Linked DNA regions of Homo sapiens: region 1 is linked to region 2. Evidence: fine-mapped expression QTL. A gene starts in region 2. The other region holds a variant in brackets. All regions are shown on one strand. Distances are from middle to middle. Region 1 has its middle 34 kb from the start of ERGIC3. Region 2 holds the start of ERGIC3 (ERGIC and golgi 3).

Region 1 (8,333 bases), 35 kb after region 2:
TGCCCAGCTAATTTTTTGTATTTTTAGTAGAGATGGGGTTTCACCATGTTAGCCAGGATGGTCTCGATCTCCTGACCTCATGATCTGCCTGCCTCGGCCTCCCAAGTGCTGGGATTACAGGCGTGAGCCACTGCGCCCGGCCGACTGGAAAGTATTTCAAAGTAGCCAGTGTAAACATGTTCACAGAACTGAAGGCAAGCTTGATTAGAGAAGTAAAGGAAGGTATGATGATAACGTTGCATCAAATAGAGAATATCAATAAAGAGATATACATTTTTTTTTTTGTTTTTGAGAGAATCTCACTCTGTCACCCAGGCTCGAGTGCAGTGGTGTGATCTCAGCTCACTGCAACTTCTGCCTCCCAGGTTCAAGCAATTCTCCTGCCTCAGCCTCCCAAGTAGCTGGGACTACTGGCACATGCCACCACACCCAGCTAATTTTTTGTATTTTTTTTAGTAGAGACGGGGTTTCACCGTGTTAGCCAGGATGGTCTCGTCTCCTGACCTCATGATCCACCCGCCTCAGCCCCCCAAAGTGCTGGGATTACAGGCATGAGCCACCACACCCAGCCAAGCCATACATTTTTTTAAAAAGAACCAAATGAAAATTCTTGAGTTGAAAAGTACAATAACTAAAATTTAAAATTCACTAGAGAGGCTCAATAGTAGATTTGAACAGAAGAAAGAATTGGCAAACTTGAAGCTAGATCAAAAGCGATTATGTAAGCTGAAGAACAGAGAGAAAAGAGAAAAAAGAAAAATGAAATAGAGCCTCAAACAAATGTGGAACACCATTAAGTACACCAACACACGTATAATGGGAGCATTAGGAGGAGACAGAGAGCTGGGTGCAGTGGCTCACGCCTGTAATGAGGCAGGCGGATCATTTGAGGTCAAAACTTTGAGACCAGCCTGGCCAACATGGTGAATGAAACCCCATCTCTAAAATTAGCCAGGCATGGTGGTGTGTGCCTATAGTCCCAGCTATTCCGGAGGCTGAGGTGGGAGAATCACTTGAACCCAGGAGGTGGAGGTTGCAGTGAGCTGAGATTGTGCCATTGCAGTCCAGCCTGGGCAACAAGAGTAAGACTCCATCTCAAAACAACAACAAAAAAAGAAGGCAGGCTGGGCACGGTGGCTCACACCTGTAATCCCAGCACTTTGGGAGGCCCAGGCGGGCGGATCACCGGAGGTCGGGAGTTTGAGACCAGCCTGACCAACATGGAGAAACTCTGTCTCTACTAAAAATACAAAATTAGCAGGATATGGTGGCACATGCCTGCAGTCCCAGCTGCTTGGGAAGCTGAGGCAGGAGAATCCTTTGAACCTGGGAGGCAGAGGTTGCAGTGAGCCAAGACAGTGCCATTGCACTCCAACCTGGGCAACAAGAGCGAAACTCCGTCTCAAAAAAAAAAAAAAAAAAGAGCTAGAGAGAGAGAAAAGAAGAAAAAAGAAAGTCTGAATATCCAATACTATCATTACTTTTGTTGTTGTTGAGACAGAATCTTGCTCTTGTTGCCCAGGCTGGAGTGCAATGGCACAATCCTGGCTCACTGCAACCCCCACCTCCCAGGTTCAAGCAATTCTCCTGCCTCAGCCTCCCAAGTAGCTGGGATTACAGGTGCCTGACACCACACCCAGCTAATTTTTGTATTTTTAATAGAGACAGGGTTTCACCATGTTGGCCAGGCTGGTCTTGGACCCCTGGCCTCAGACTCCCAAAGTGCTGGGATTACAGGCGAAAGCCACTGTGCCCAGCCTCATTACTTATTCTGTTGCCCCAATTTTTCAAGTCTTAACCATTAGGAGCTCCTTCAGGTTGGCTCCTGTGTTCATTCTTTCATCAAGCCCCCATCCTTTTTTGAGCACTTCCTTACTCCTGCCCCACAAGATGCTCCAGATTTGACTTATATTTTCCCAGTCCTAGTCCTGGAATCAACTCCAAGGAGTCCTTAATCCTTTTATTAAATAATGGTTTTTAGAAACCAAAATCTGGGCACCTGGTTTGCTCACTGCTACTAGGATGTTGTTGATTCTAGGCCTTCTCAGCAAACGGAGATAGCAAACATGAATAACATAATCCACATATATATACACATATCTATATTTCTGTATCTTTCCATCTGTGTATATTTAAAAACATGAGTTTATACAGATACTTCTGTTTCTGATCTAATACCACAGCATTCATTTAATCCCCTTTCCTTATCTGTAACTTCTTTCTCCAACAGTAAGAAACCTGGTTCTCATTATCTACAATATAGTTTACTTATTCATGTATACCAGTATACACATAATATAGTTTCAGAATTGCTAACACATACTTCTAACTAGATGACAGCATTTATGTTCAGCTCTCTTTATCTTTAGTTTAGTTGGTTTTTTGTTTTGTTTTTGTTTTTTGTGACAAGCTCTCTCCCTGTCATCCAAGCTGGAGTGCAGTGGCACAAGCTTGGCTCACTGCAACCTCCTCCTCCCAGCTTCAAACAATGCTCCTGCCTCAGCCTCCAAAACAGCTGGGACTACAGGCACGTGCCACCATGCCCAGCTAATTTTTGTATTTTTAGTAGAGACGGGGTTCACCCTGTTAGCCAGGCTGGTCTCAAACTCCTGACCCTCAGGCGATCCACCCAATTTAGGCAATCCACCTGCCTCAGCCTCCTGAAGTGCTGGCATTACAGGCATGAGCCACCACACCCAGCCACATCCAGCTAGTTTTTTAATCTTTTGTAGAGATGGAGTCTCACTTTGTTGCCCAGGCTGGTCTTGACCTCCTGGGCTAAAGTGATCCTCCTGTCTTGGCCTCCCAAAGTGCTGGGATTACAGGTGTGAGCCACTGCACCAGGCCCATCTAGAGTTTTATAGAGCCCTGTCAAATTACTGTTTTCCAGAGTTACTTGGTTTTGTTCTTCACTTCCTTCAGTGTGGTTATATTGTTCATTTGTAATACAGTGAGGGTCATTTGTTAGTGTTTGTATTCCATGTTAGGTTTCCTCAACACTGTGATTGCTTTTAATTTTCTGTCTATTGTAGGGGCATGTGAAACACTGCTACAGTTCTAAGAGTCAGAGGTATACAAAAAGATCTACTTTGAGAAGTGTCATTTTTGTCCTCATTCTCGCAACCCTGACCCCTTTCCCCCTTTCGTTCCATCCCTTTGCCACTCACTTTCTTTTTTGTTTTTTTTTTTTGGAGACGGAGTCTCGCTCCGTCACCCAGGCTGGAGCGTGGTGGCGCAATCTTGGCTTACTGCAACCTCCGCCTCCTGGGTTCAAGTGATTCTCCTGCCTCAGCCTCCCGAGTAGCTGGGACTACAAGCATGAGCCACTATGCTCAGCTAATTTTTGTATTTTTAGTAGAGATGGGGTTTCACCATGTTGGTTGGCCAGAATGGTCTCGATCTCTTGACCTCGTGATCCACCCGCCTCGGCCTCCCAAAGTGCTGGGATTACAGGCGTGAGCCACCACAACCGGCTCCGAGATATCTTTAAGAATACTTCAAGGCCCTGCTGAACTCAGTATGAAAACTGCACCAATGGACAAAGTTGGACAAAGGTAT[T/G]TGGTAACAAGCCTTCTGAAGCCTGAGATTCAGCCCTGTTCTCATCCTAGAATTATACGTGCCATTCTACAGGACTAGAACTACAAACAGGGGTCAGGAGACCAACTCCCAATTCTGGTTCTGCCATGAACATGCTTTATAACCCTAGGGGATCTCCTAAATTTGTGGATTCAATTTCTCACCTGAAAAATGAAGAACTTGAACTCTGTGATCACGAGGTTCCTCCCAAAGCCTTCCTTCTGTAGGTTTTGTGTACATTACCTTAGCTATAGTTGGAGGCGTGCCAGGGCTATGGAGACTCACCTTTACAACATACACTCTGACCAGGAGCTTGATGGGCCGGTTCTGTGGGATCCCCCGGGAGATCTGGGGCTCAGAGAACAACACTGCCTCTGATTCAGGGTAAATGAGGAAGGAGCCCTGAGTTGGGGGGAGACAGAAAAAGCTCTGGTAAGATAATTGTCCTCCTGAATCCCCACCTGGGCTCCCTGGTTCCGCTTTCCTTCCCCAAATGTACCTTGAACTTGCCCACAAGGTGTCCAGATCCTTCCTCTTCTCCACCTCCATCCTGGCCCCCTTGCCCTCGGTACAGAGGAAACACATTCAGCCAGTCTTCAAAGTGGTTAAATTCTTCCTTCAGGGACCTGTTGTAGATCTAAAAGGCAAGGACTTCAGCAACAGCCCGATGTCCAGAATCCAAAGGAGACTTTCCTCTTCCCAGTACCCAGTCACCTTCAGGGTGGCAACTGCTTTTTTTGGGGACACAGTGCCTTTGACTTCAGCCTCACCCTGGTCTTGGATCTCCCCAACCATAGAAATGAGGTTGACCCCATCTGGAAACAGCAAAAATGCCCCAGTCAGAAATATCTGGGTGGGTAGGGGATGGGCAGATGGAACCAGAGCAAAAAGCCCAATCTGTTACCTGAATCTCCAGGATCATCCATTTCATCTTCATCAAAGTTGTGCTGAAATTAAAGAGCAGATCCAGAGATTCTTCCCCATCCCCTTCAACCCCTTAGTCTACCCCCTTTTCCAGGAGAGTTGGGAAACCTTCACTCAAGTTCCCACTGTGTATGCCACTTGCATTTTTAAAGCTCCAATTTATCATCCAGCCTGCCCTGTCTAGGGCAGTCACCACCAGCCACACGTGGCTACTGAGCAGTCAAAACGTGGCTAGTCTGAATTGCAATGTGCTGTAAGTGGCCAGGCTTGGTGGCTCATGCCTGGAATCCCAACACTTTGGGAGACTGAGGTGACTACTTGAGGCCAGGAGTTCGAGATCAGGCTGAACAACACAGTGAGAACCTGTCTCTATGAAATAAATGCTTTTTAATTTTTATTTATTTATTTTTGAGACAGACTCTTGCTGTGTAGCCCAGGTTGGAGTGTATTGGTGTGAACATGGCTCACTGTAGCCTCAACCTCCGAGGCTCAAGTGATCCTCCCACCTCAACCTCTTGAGTCGCTGGGGCCACCGGCGTGTACCACCATGCACAGCTACTTGTTTTCATTTTTAGTAGAGATGGTGTCTCACCATGTTCCCCAGACTGTTCTCAAACTCCTGGCTTCGAGTGATCCTCCCACCTCAGACTCCCAAAGTGCTGGGATTACCGGCATGAAACACCACACCCAGGAAAAAAAAAGTTTGTAATTAGCTGAGTGTAGTGGTATGTACTTATGGTCCTAGCTACTGGGGAGGCTGAGGTGGGAAGATCACTTGAACCCAGGAGTTTGAGACCAGTCTGGATAACAGATAAAGACCCCATCTCTAAAAATAAAAAGAAAAGAAAGAAAAAGATGTGCGATAAGTATAAAATAAAAACCGGATTTTTAAATACTTAGTACAAAAAACAAGAATGTAAAATATCTCAGAAATTTTATGATTACTTGTTGAAGTTTTTTTTTTTTTTTTTTTTTTTTTTGAGAGACAGAGTTTCACTCTGTCACCCAGGCTGGAGCACAGTCTCGGCTCACTGTAACCTCCACCTCCCAGGTTCAAGCGATTCTCCTGCCTCAGCCTCCAGAATAGCTGGGATTAACAGGTGCCCAGCACCACGCCCGGCTAATTTTTGTATTTTTAGTAGAGACGGGGTTTCGCCATGTTGGCCAGGCTGGTCTCGAACTCCTGACCTCAAGTGATCTGCCTGCCTCAGCCTCCCAAAGTGCTGGGATTACAGGCATGAGCCACTGTGCCCAGCCTTGAAATGGTATTTTGAATATATTACTAAAATTAATTTCACCTGTTTCGTTTTACTTTTTTTTTTTTTTTTTTTTTTGAGAGGGAGTCTCGTTCTGTCGCCCAGGCTGGAGTGCAGTGGCGCAATCTCGGCTCACTGCAAGGTCCGCCTCCCAGGTTCACACCATTCTCCTGCCTCAGCCTCCTGAGTAGGTGGGACTACAGGCACCCGCCACCATGCCCCGCTAATATTTTTTGTATTTTTAGTAGAGACGGGGTTTCACCATGTTAGCCAGGATGGTCTCAATCTCCTGACCTCGTGATCCACCCGCCTTGGCCTCCCAAAGCGCTGGGATTACAGGCGTGAGCCACCGCGCCTGGCCCCTTCTACTTTAATGTGGCTACTACAAAAGTTAAAATTACGTATGTGGCTCGTGTTATGTCTTTTGGACAACACAGCTCTAGATAATGGAGTTAATAATCCCCAGCTTCTAGAATTGTGAAGAAAAGAGGACTATAATGAAGAGCTCTGAAAAACTGTAGAGCTCCACCTTCAATGAGATCATTCTTGTTTTTTGTTTGTTTTTTGAGACGGAGTCTCACTGTCACCCAGGCTGTTGTGCAATGGCATGATCTCAGCTCACAGGAGCCTCTGCCTCTGGGTTCAAGTGATTCTCCTGCGTCAGCCTCCTGAGTAGCTGGGACTACAGGTGCGCGCCGCCATGCCTAGCTAAGATATCATTCTTTTTACCATTTACACCCCAGCCCCCTCCCTGGGACCCTTCTCTGCCCCCACCTGCCCCTGGAGCTCCTGCAGCGACGCATAGTACTTGGACCCCCAGTCGAGCTCCTCTGGATCTGGGATGTCTTCCTCCAGCCCAGGGCCTTGATTTAGGAGGCCTCCTAGTGGGAGCTTCTTCAGAGGAGGCTGAGGAAGAGCAGACTTTGTCCCTCTAACCCAGCACCATCCCAAGTACTGCCAGCCCCTTCACCATCTATCTCCTCTACCCCATCACCTTCAGGAGCTGTCTGGATATACCCGCTTCAGCCAAGAAGGGATCCAGGGACTTCTGTCCTGGGAGGGGGAAAATGGCAGCATGAGGAGAGTGGGTAAGTAGAAGTCAGATTCCACACCCCATCGGAGGGCCCTCTGGAGCCACGTCCACCAGGAATCAGAGGGGCTTCTGTCTGGTGTCCCTGAAGGAGAAGGTTCCTAACCTTGAGGTCCCTTGGGCATCATATCCCCTGTCTCCTCCATCTCTCCTTCCTCCTCAGGAGGATCCTCATGACCCCGAAATGTGAATCGCAGCATGTGGGGGACAATGTGGGAACCCACAAGGACTGTGTGGCCAAAGGCCCGGCGCTCAATCACCAAGATGCTGAGTGGAGGCTGCAAGTAAGGCTGCTCCGGCAAGTCCTGGGGGTGGAAGAGAGGAGCTGTGTCTTTGAAGACCTGGGGAACAGGGAAAGGTAGCCACAGAGACAGGTAGGAAAAAAAATACATCTAAACCTGCATTCTAAGCCCAGCTCTGCCATAGCCTCACTGTGTAATCTCTGGTAAACCATTGCCTTCTCATCCTGTTTCCTAGCTAAAAAAGGGACACAGGCCGGGCGCAGTGTCTCATGCCTGTAATCCCAGCACTTGGAGAGGCCAAGGTGGGCAGATCACAAGTTCAGGAGTTCGAGACCAGCCTGGCCAACGTAGTGAAACCCCATATCTACTAAAAATACAAAAATTAGCTGGGCGTGGTGGTGAGCACCTGTAATCTCAGCTACTCGGGAGACTGAGGCAGGAGAATCGCTTGAAAACAGAAGGTGGAGGTTGCAGTGAGCCAAGGTCACACCACTGTACTGCAGTCTGGGCAACAACAGCAAAACTCCATCTCAAAAAAAAAAAAAAAAAAAAAGGGACACAATCCTGGATTCAAAAGACTGTTGTAAATATCAAATGACATAATAGAAACATAAGTACTTTGGAGCCTACAAAGTGCTGTCAGAAGCTGGGCATGGTGGCTCATGCCTGTAACCCCAGCACTTTGGGAGGCTGAGGCAGGCAGACTGCTCAAACTCAGGAGTTCGAGACCAGCCTGGGCAACATGGCAAGACACCATCTGTACCAAAAATACAAAAAAATAGCCGGGCATAGTGGTGCGCACCTGTGGTCCCAGCTACTCAGGAGGTTGAGGTGGGAGGATCACTTGAGCCCAGGGGGCGGAGGTTACAGTGAGCCAAGATTTGCACTCCAGCCTTGGTGACAGAGCAAGAGACCCTGTCTAAAATATATATGTGTATATACACACACACACACACAAATATATTTTTTGGCTGGGCATGGTGGCTGACACCTGTAATCCCAGCACTTTGGGAGGCCAAGGCAGGCAGATCACTTGAGGTCAGGAGTTTGAGACCAGCCTGGCCAAGATGATGAAATCCTGTCTCTACTAAAAATACAAAAAAATTAGCTGGGTGTGGTAACGGGTGGCTGTAATCCCAGCTACTTGGGAAGCTGAGGCAGAAGAATAGCTTGAACCTGGGAGGCACAGGTTGCAGTGAGCCGAGATCGCGCCACTGCAGCCTAGGCAGCAGAGTGAGACTCTGT
Region 2 (8,294 bases):
ATTTTTAGTATAGACAAGGTTTCACTATGCTGGTCAGGCTGGTCTCAAACTCCTGACCTTGTGATCCTCCCACTTCTGACACCCAAAGTGCTGGAATTACAGGTGTGAGCCACTGCACCCGGCCAATGCTAGCTATTTTAAAAAATTATTATTATTAGCTATTATTTTTATTTTTATTATTTTATTAAGGGATATATTAATATCCATAATTAGGACTGTAACTTTCTTTCTTTCTTTTTTTTTTTTTGATTCGGAGTCTCGCTCTGTTGCCCAGGCTGGAGTGCAATGGCACAATCTTCGGCTCACTGCAACCTCTGCCTCCCGGGTTCGAGCAATTCTCCTGCCTCAGCCTCCTGAGTAGCTGGGATTACAGGCGCCCACCACCATGCCCAGCTAATTTTTGTATTTTTAGTAGAGACGGGGTTTCACCATATTGGCCAGGCTGGTCTTCTGGCCTGGCTGGTCTCAAACTTCTGACCTGGTGATCCACCCTCCTCGGCCTCCCAAAGTGCTGGGATTACAGGCGTGAGCTACCGTGCCCAGCCAGGACTGTAACATTCTTGAAGGCAAGAACTGTTCTAATTCAACTCTCTCTTCCCAGGACTCAACACAGGGCAGGGACACAGTGTGTGTGTGTGTATATTTGAGTGTTGCTTGCATACATGGATATTACATTTTAAAATCTGAATTTAGTGCAATTTTTAATTTTTATTTTTTAATAATTTTTATTTTATTTTATTTATTTTATTTAATTTTCAGACAAAGTTTCACTCTTGTCCTCCAGGCTGGAGTGCAATGGCATGATCTTGGCTCACTGCAACCTCCACCTCCTGGGTTCAAGCGATTCTCCTGTCTTAGCCTCCCAAGTAGCTAGGATTACAGGCATGCGCCACCACGCCCGGCTAATTTTTTGTATTTTTAGTAGAGATGGGGTTTCACCATGTTGGCCAGGCTGGTCTTGAACTCTTGACCTCAGGTAATCTGGCCTCCTCGGCCTCCCCTAGTGTTGGGATTACAGGCGTGAGCCACCACCCCTGGCCTTTTTTTTAAAGTATTTTTGATACAGGGTCTCACTCTGTCACCCAGGCTGGAATGCAGTGGCATGGTCTCGGGTCACTGCAACCTCTGCCCCCCACCCCTGGGTTCAAGCGATTCTCCCACCTCAGCCTCCCGAATAGCTGGGATTAGAGGCACCCGCCACCACACCCAGCTAAGTTTTTGTATTTTTTGGTAGAGATGGGATTTTGCTATGTTGGCCAGGTTGGTCTGAAACTCCTGACCTCAAGTGATCCACCTGCCTTGGCCTCCCAAAGTGCTGAGATTACAGGCATGGGCCACCGCGCCTGGGCTTAGTGCAATATTTGAGGCACTCAGATTTTTTTTTTCCTGTGCTGCTGGTTTTGGTCCTATGTGGGCAATAAAACAAGGAACCTTTCAGGAAAGTACTTCTCACACTTTAATGTGCATGCTAATTATCTGGAGAGTCTTGTTAGAATGCAGATTCTGATTCTGCAGGTTTGGGGTGGGGACTGGGATTCTGCATTTCTAACAGGTTCCCAGATAAGGCCAATGTTTCTGGTTCAAGGATCCCACTTAGGGTAGCAGAGCTTTAGACTTAATTCCATCAGCAGATTCCTTATTACCTATTTCTGATAGAATTCTTGGTGCTCTCAGGAATCTGAAGCCCAGATAATAGAGGGAGATCCCAGGTGTCCTCTGCCACCCTGTTAGCTGAGGGAGACCCAAAAACTTTGGCTTCCGTGAAAAGTCCTCCTCCAGTTGTCCCCAAAGTTGTAGCATGAGTCCTTCCAAATCTTTTCTCATGATTATACAAATACATATTCCCCCATATAAGATTAAGATTTTTATATATAGATAGATTTTTTTTTTATTTAGGTTTTTTTTTTTGTTTTTTTTTTGAGACGGAGTGTGGCTCTGTCGCCCAGGCTGGAGTGCAGTGGGGCAATCTCGGCTCACTGCAAGCTCCACCTCCCAGGTTCACGCCATTCTCCTGCCTCAGCCTCCCGAGTAGCTGGGACTACAGGCGCCCGCTACTACGCCCGGCTAATTTTTTGTATTTTTAGTAGAGACAGGGTTTCACCATGTTAGCCAGGATGGTCTTGATCTCCTGACCTCGTGATCCGCCCGCCTCGGCCTCCCAAAGTGCTGGGATTACAGGCGTGAGCCACAGCGCCCGGCCTATGTTTTACATATATAACAATTTATATATAACTACATATATAATATATATAACAGTTTATATATATATATAACAGTTTATATATATAATATATATAACAGTTTATATATATATATATAACAGTTTATATATATAATATATATAACAGTTTATATATATAATATATATAACAGTTTATATATATAATATATAAGTTTATATATTATATATAACAGTTTATATATAACAGTTTATATATAATATATATAAGTTTATATATAACAGTTTATATATATAATATATATAAGTTTATATATAATATATATAAGTTTATATATATGTTTATATATAATATATATAACAGTTTATATATATAATATATATAACAGTTTATATATATAATATATATAACAGTTTATATATATAATATATATAACAGTTTATATATATAAAATATATAACAGTTTATATATATAATATATATAAGTTTATATATATAATATATATAACAGTTTATATATATTATATATATATATATGCACACACACAAAGAGAGAGAGAGAGACTCGCTCTGTCGCCCAGGCTGTAGTGCAGTGGTGTAATCACAGCTCACTATGAGGCAGGAGAACAGGGAATCAGGGTAACCGGGGGTTAAGACATAAGCAAATGAAGGGGTGCAGCCAGTTCTAGGCAGCATACAGGCCACATCTTCAATCCTATGATAACGAGACAGAAGTTTCCACTTCCGCCTCCGATTGACCGTGGGGCCAAATCTCCACTTCAGCCTCTGATTGGCTGTGGGCCAAGTCTCCACTTCAGCCTCTGATTTGGTCGCAGGCCAATCCTTCATAGGTGTAGCCAACTGGAGGCTTCTAAAGGGCACCTAGGGGTGTTGCCAGGTCCCTTTAGCTTAATACAAACCCTGATTGAGGAGGCTCTTGAGCAGCTTGCTCTAACCAGCTGCCGCTATGAATCGTCTTCAATAAATCTATGCTTTTGTTATTCCGTTCTTCTGTTGCTGTTTGTCTTTCGTTGCCCTTCTGTTACTTTATGTGTTTTGTTCAACACGCCAAGAACCTGGACAACTCTATGCTGGTAACAACTGCAGGTAACCTGGTAACAACTGCAGTTTCAAACTCTCCTGGGCTCAACCCCAGCCTCCCAGGTAGCTGAGACTATAGACGCATGCCACCACACCTGGCTAATTTTTTTATTTTTATTTTTATTTTTGGAGACAGAATCTCACTCTGTCGCCCAGGCTGGAATGCAATGGCATGATCTCGGCTCACTGCAACCTCCGCCTCCCAGGTTCAAGCGATTCTCCTGCCTCGGACTCACAAGTAGCTGGGTTTACAGGAGCACACTACCACGCCTGGCTAATTTTTGTATTTTTAGTAGAGATGGGGTTTCACCATGTTGACCAGGCTGGTCTCAAACTCCTGAACTCAAGTGATGCTTCCTGGCTCGGCCTCCTGAAGTGCTAGGGTTACAGATGTAGTTTTTAAAGTTTTTGTAGAGTGGGGTCTTGCTGTGTTGCCCAGGCTGGTCTTAGACTCCTGGCCTCATGTGATCCTCCTCGGTCTCCCAAAGTGCTGTGATTACAGGTGTGAGCCATTGTGCCCAGCCCAATTTTTAATTAAAAAATGGAATGATGGAATGCACATTACTTTGCATCTTTTCCCCCTTAAAAATACATTCTTAGTATACCTAAAGGAGTAAATCTACCTCATTCTTTTGAAAAGTGGCCTAATATTCCATAGAATGGGTGTATCGTGATTTATTCAATTTATTTAATGTATCAGTGGGCATTCTGGCTGGTTCCAGATTTTTGCCATTGAACAATCTCATGCATACATCTTTATGATGTGGTGCACTTAAAATCTTTAAGAGACAGATTCAATATCTTAAGGTGTAACAACCACCCAGATCATGGTACTTTTATCCTTATATTAAAATTTTTTTCTGTTAACCTTGGATAGCTGCTTACATATTTTTTCTTTTTCAAAATTTTTCTATTAACCTTGACATGGTGCTTTTACTTCCTAAAGTGGAATTCCTGTATGAAAGCCTATGAGCTTTTATATCTTACTCATTGCAGCTGCATTACTGTGGGAGCTGTCCCTCTAGAGACACTGGGCTGCAATGGGAAGTGTCAGGGAGAGCTTAAGCTCCATATCACTTGAGTCTAAACCTGGAGGGATAGAGCGTGTCCGTGAGGATCCCAGGGCCTGGAGAGCAATTTAGGGTAATATTCAGAAAGCAGCGCTCAGGAGAAGCACTGGGACGCTGTTTAGGTAAAATCAACCCAAAAGACCCTGATTCCCAGAGTACTTTGAGGTCCAGAAGAACTGGGCTGGAAGCAGGTCCTGCTATTAATTGGCTGTGATCTTGGGCAAGTTATTTAACTTCTCCAGGTCACAGTTTGCTCTTTGGAAAACGGAGATAAGTCACACCTGCTTTCAGGGCGGACACCCTTACTTTACATCAGAATCATCCGATGCCATTCCTAGCGTTTCGGCTTCAGTAGGTGGGAATCAATTATTTGCATTTCTAATAGGTAATCAGTTGATAATGATGCGGCCGGTCCGGTACACTCGAAAAACCACTGTTCCAGGATATTCCAAGATGTTCCAAGAGTCTTAAACACCTGGTGCAGTTCCGAGCACAAGGCACACGAACGGTGCTATTAGCGTTTCTAACCCCGCAGAGAACTCCTCGCACCCCAGTCCTCAAAATCCCGCCCCGGACAGCGGAGGCCGGGGCAGTAGCTTCCAGACCCAATTGCCCGCGCAAGGGGGCGTGGCAGCATCGTTGGGCGGGGCCGCCTGTAAGAGAACGCGGCTAAAGGTGGGGCCAAGCGTGCGGTTTGCTGCGCCTGCGTGAGGAAAAAGAGGGGGGCGTGGCTCCAGGCCGGAAGAGGGAGTCTGTAGGGGCGGGCCGGCTGGCGTCCCCTTTCCGGCCGGTCCCCATGGAGGCGCTGGGGAAGCTGAAGCAGTTCGATGCCTACCCCAAGACTTTGGAGGACTTCCGGGTCAAGACCTGCGGGGGCGCCACCGGTAGGCCGCAGCGGGGCCGGGGTCGCGTGGAGGGGGGCGTCCTAGAGCTTAGCCCGGGCTCCTGGACTCTGACTGGCCTGCCGGTGTCTGAGGGAGCGGATTCGAGGCCATTCTGACCCTCGCCCCTTGTCCTGCAGTGACCATTGTCAGTGGCCTTCTCATGCTGCTACTGTTCCTGTCCGAGCTGCAGTATTACCTCACCACGGAGGTAAGGGGCGGGGCTTAGTGCGTGGGCGGGGCTTGGCATTCTAGGAGTAGGACCTTTAGGGGTGGGAGTGGGGAAGGAGAGGTTTGGGGCTAAGTCTTACTGAGGTAGCGCTGCCCCAGGTGCATCCTGAGCTCTACGTGGACAAGTCGCGGGGAGATAAACTGAAGATCAACATCGATGTACTTTTTCCGCACATGCCTTGTGCCTGTGAGTACCTCACCATGGGTGGGACTGGAGAGACCCAGGGTTCTCATGTGGGCTGCCAGATTCACACCTCCACCCTTAGGTTCTGGACTGGACCCCAGGACAACCTCCTTCTCCTCATCCCGTTCTGCCCCAAGACAGGCCCAGTATCCCCTTCCCCTCCAAAACCCACATCCCCTTGTCCCTAGGGTCCCAGTACCTTAGCCTGATTTTCCTGCTTCCAGATCTGAGTATTGATGCCATGGATGTGGCCGGAGAACAGCAGCTGGATGTGGAACACAACCTGTTCAAGCAACGACTAGATAAAGATGGCATCCCCGTGAGCTCAGAGGCTGAGCGGCATGGTAACCAGGGGAGGGGGCCGGGTCTCAGATCCCAAAGCTGGATGTACCCAAGCCTATCTGCTAGCAAGTGAACTGTGGCAGGCATAGTGATACATTAAACAACTAAGAGCTAGAGAAGTCAAGTGACTTGCCTAGGGTCCCCCAGCTAGTAAGAGTCAGAGTGAGCTAAAATCCTCTATACATATCGAGTCAGGTAATCTACCTGGCTATTATTCTCAGAGGTCCTCAATACCTGCAGATGGTAGTTTGAATACCAGAGGTTTGAAGATAGGTCTTATGTGCTCTTGCCTTGGTAGAACTGTCTAGATGGACCCAGGCTTCTTTGAGTGTTTGCTTTCCCAGCCCATTGGCTTAATTCAGCCCTTAATGCTCTTCCCCTTTGGAATGCAGGTGGTTTAATGAGAATTTAGGTTCTCAAGTCAGATTGCCTGGGTTCACATCTAGCTTTGTCTCCTGCAGTCTGTGAGCTTCAGCTAGAAAGTGGTAATAAAACAGTAGTACCAACCACATGGAATTGTAAGATCAAATGAAGTCATATGTGTAAAATGCCTGGTACAGAGTGGGTACCCACTTTTACCTTCCTTTCCTTTATCTTGGTGGCTTCCCAATTCCCTTCGTTAACTCAGTTTCCCACCACAGCAAACTGTCCTCAAAGCTGGGATTTCTAACACCTTAGAGATTACTCTGGTGGGGAGTTTTATCATTCGTTGTTTCAGCAGATTAATGCAGGACACCAGTGGAACCAACATAATTTGCTATAGGACTGGATGTGGAGTGGAGGAGAGCAAAGTCATGGTTGTTGATTCCAACGCTTTCAGCCTGAGCAAATGAATGACTTGAGATGGAGATGACTGGAGGAGAAGGTTTTTTTGGTGGGAGGGAGGAGTGGCTATTGGATATCCACTGCTGTGTAACAAAGTACTCCAAAAGTTAGTAGTTTGATACAATAAAAATGTGTTTTTTCAGTTTCCCTGGGTCAGGAATTTAGGAGTGGCTTGTTTGGGTGATTCGGGATTAGGGTATCTCACGAGGTTGCAGTCATCTAAGGATTGATGGGGCACTGAAGAATCTACTATCTATCTATCTATCTATCTATCTATCTATCTATCTATCTATCTATCTGTCTATCTTGAGACAGAGTCTCACTTTGTCGCCCAGGCTGGAGTGCAGTGGCGCGATCTTGGCTCACTGCAACCTCCGCCTCCCAGGTTCAAGTGATTCTCCTGCCTCAACCTCCCGAGTAGCTGGGATTACAGGCCTGTGCCACCATGCCCAGCTAATTTTTTGTATTTTTAGTAGAGACGGGGTTGCACCTTGTTGGGCCAGATGGTCTTGATCTCTTGACCTTGTGATCCACCCGCCTCAGCCTTCCAAAGTGCTGGGATTACAGGCATGAGCCACTGCGCCTGGCCTACTTATTTGTTGTTTAAATTTATTTTTTTTCTGTCAAGGTGTTCTTTATTTCAGAGAGAGGGCAGGACAGGGGGCTCAGTCTTTCTTGGCATCAGCTTTCCTCATGATGGCTGGGACATTGCTCAGCTCCTCCTGCCTCCTCTTAGTGCGGATGTGCGTCCCCACTCTTTTCTTGATGAACTTGAGGGCCCGTTTGTCCTTGGAGACCTTGAGTAACACCATGGCGTGCCGCTCATACGGGGCGAAACCACACACCTCTCGGATCATGTCCCACATGAATTTGGTGTTTGGTCAGGCGCCCGCGGCGGCAGCTGTGCCTGGGCTTGCTCATGTTCTTGGTCATCTTGTGGCCCTTGTCAAGGCACACGGCCATAGTGGGTAGCACAGAGCCATGGCTGCTGCTCTCCAATGGCAGCTGTGGCAGAAGGGCTGGTGCCACGCGGGGATCTACTTTTTTTTTTTTTTTTTTTTTGAGTCACGCTCTGTCACCCAGGCTGGAGTGCAATGGTGCGATTTCAGCTCACTGCAACCTCTGCCTCCCGGCTTCAAGTGATTCACCTGCCTCAGCCTTCTGAGTAGCTGGGGTTACAGGCGCCTGCCCCCACACCCGGCTACTTTTTGTATTTTTGGTAGAGACAGGGTTTCACCATCGTGGCCAGGCTGGTCTCAAACTCCTGACCTCAGGTGATCCACCCGCCTTGGCCTCCCAAAGTGTTGGGATTACAGGCATGGGCCACCACGCCCAGCAGGGGATCTGCTTTTAAAGGGCTCACTCATAGGGCTGTTGGCAGGATGCCTCAGTGCCTCACCACATGGGCCTCTCAGTAGGGTTGCTTGTGTGTCCTTGTATCACGGCAACTGGCTTCCCCCACTTGGATCTTGCAAGTGAG

Evidence for each region.
Region 1: its variant is fine-mapped to the expression of ERGIC3 in blood mononuclear cells (TOPMed, PIP above 0.99).

What each region holds. Positions count from the first base shown.
Region 1 is chr20:35,572,306-35,580,638 of GRCh38, forward strand. It overlaps the pseudogene FER1L4. Among named protein-coding and RNA genes, the nearest start is that of ERGIC3, 34 kb to the left of the region's middle. RefSeq lists a silencer at 4,701-4,863. The variant T/G (reference allele first, on the strand shown) is at 3,559.
Region 2 is chr20:35,536,951-35,545,244 of GRCh38, forward strand. It overlaps ERGIC3 (ERGIC and golgi 3), which reads left to right and starts at 5,128. Exons shown (of 13, transcript NM_015966.3): 1 at 5,128-5,235; 2 at 5,373-5,443; 3 at 5,563-5,650; 4 at 5,872-5,991. The coding sequence starts at 5,148. It also overlaps the pseudogene RPL36P4. RefSeq lists an enhancer at 4,800-4,889.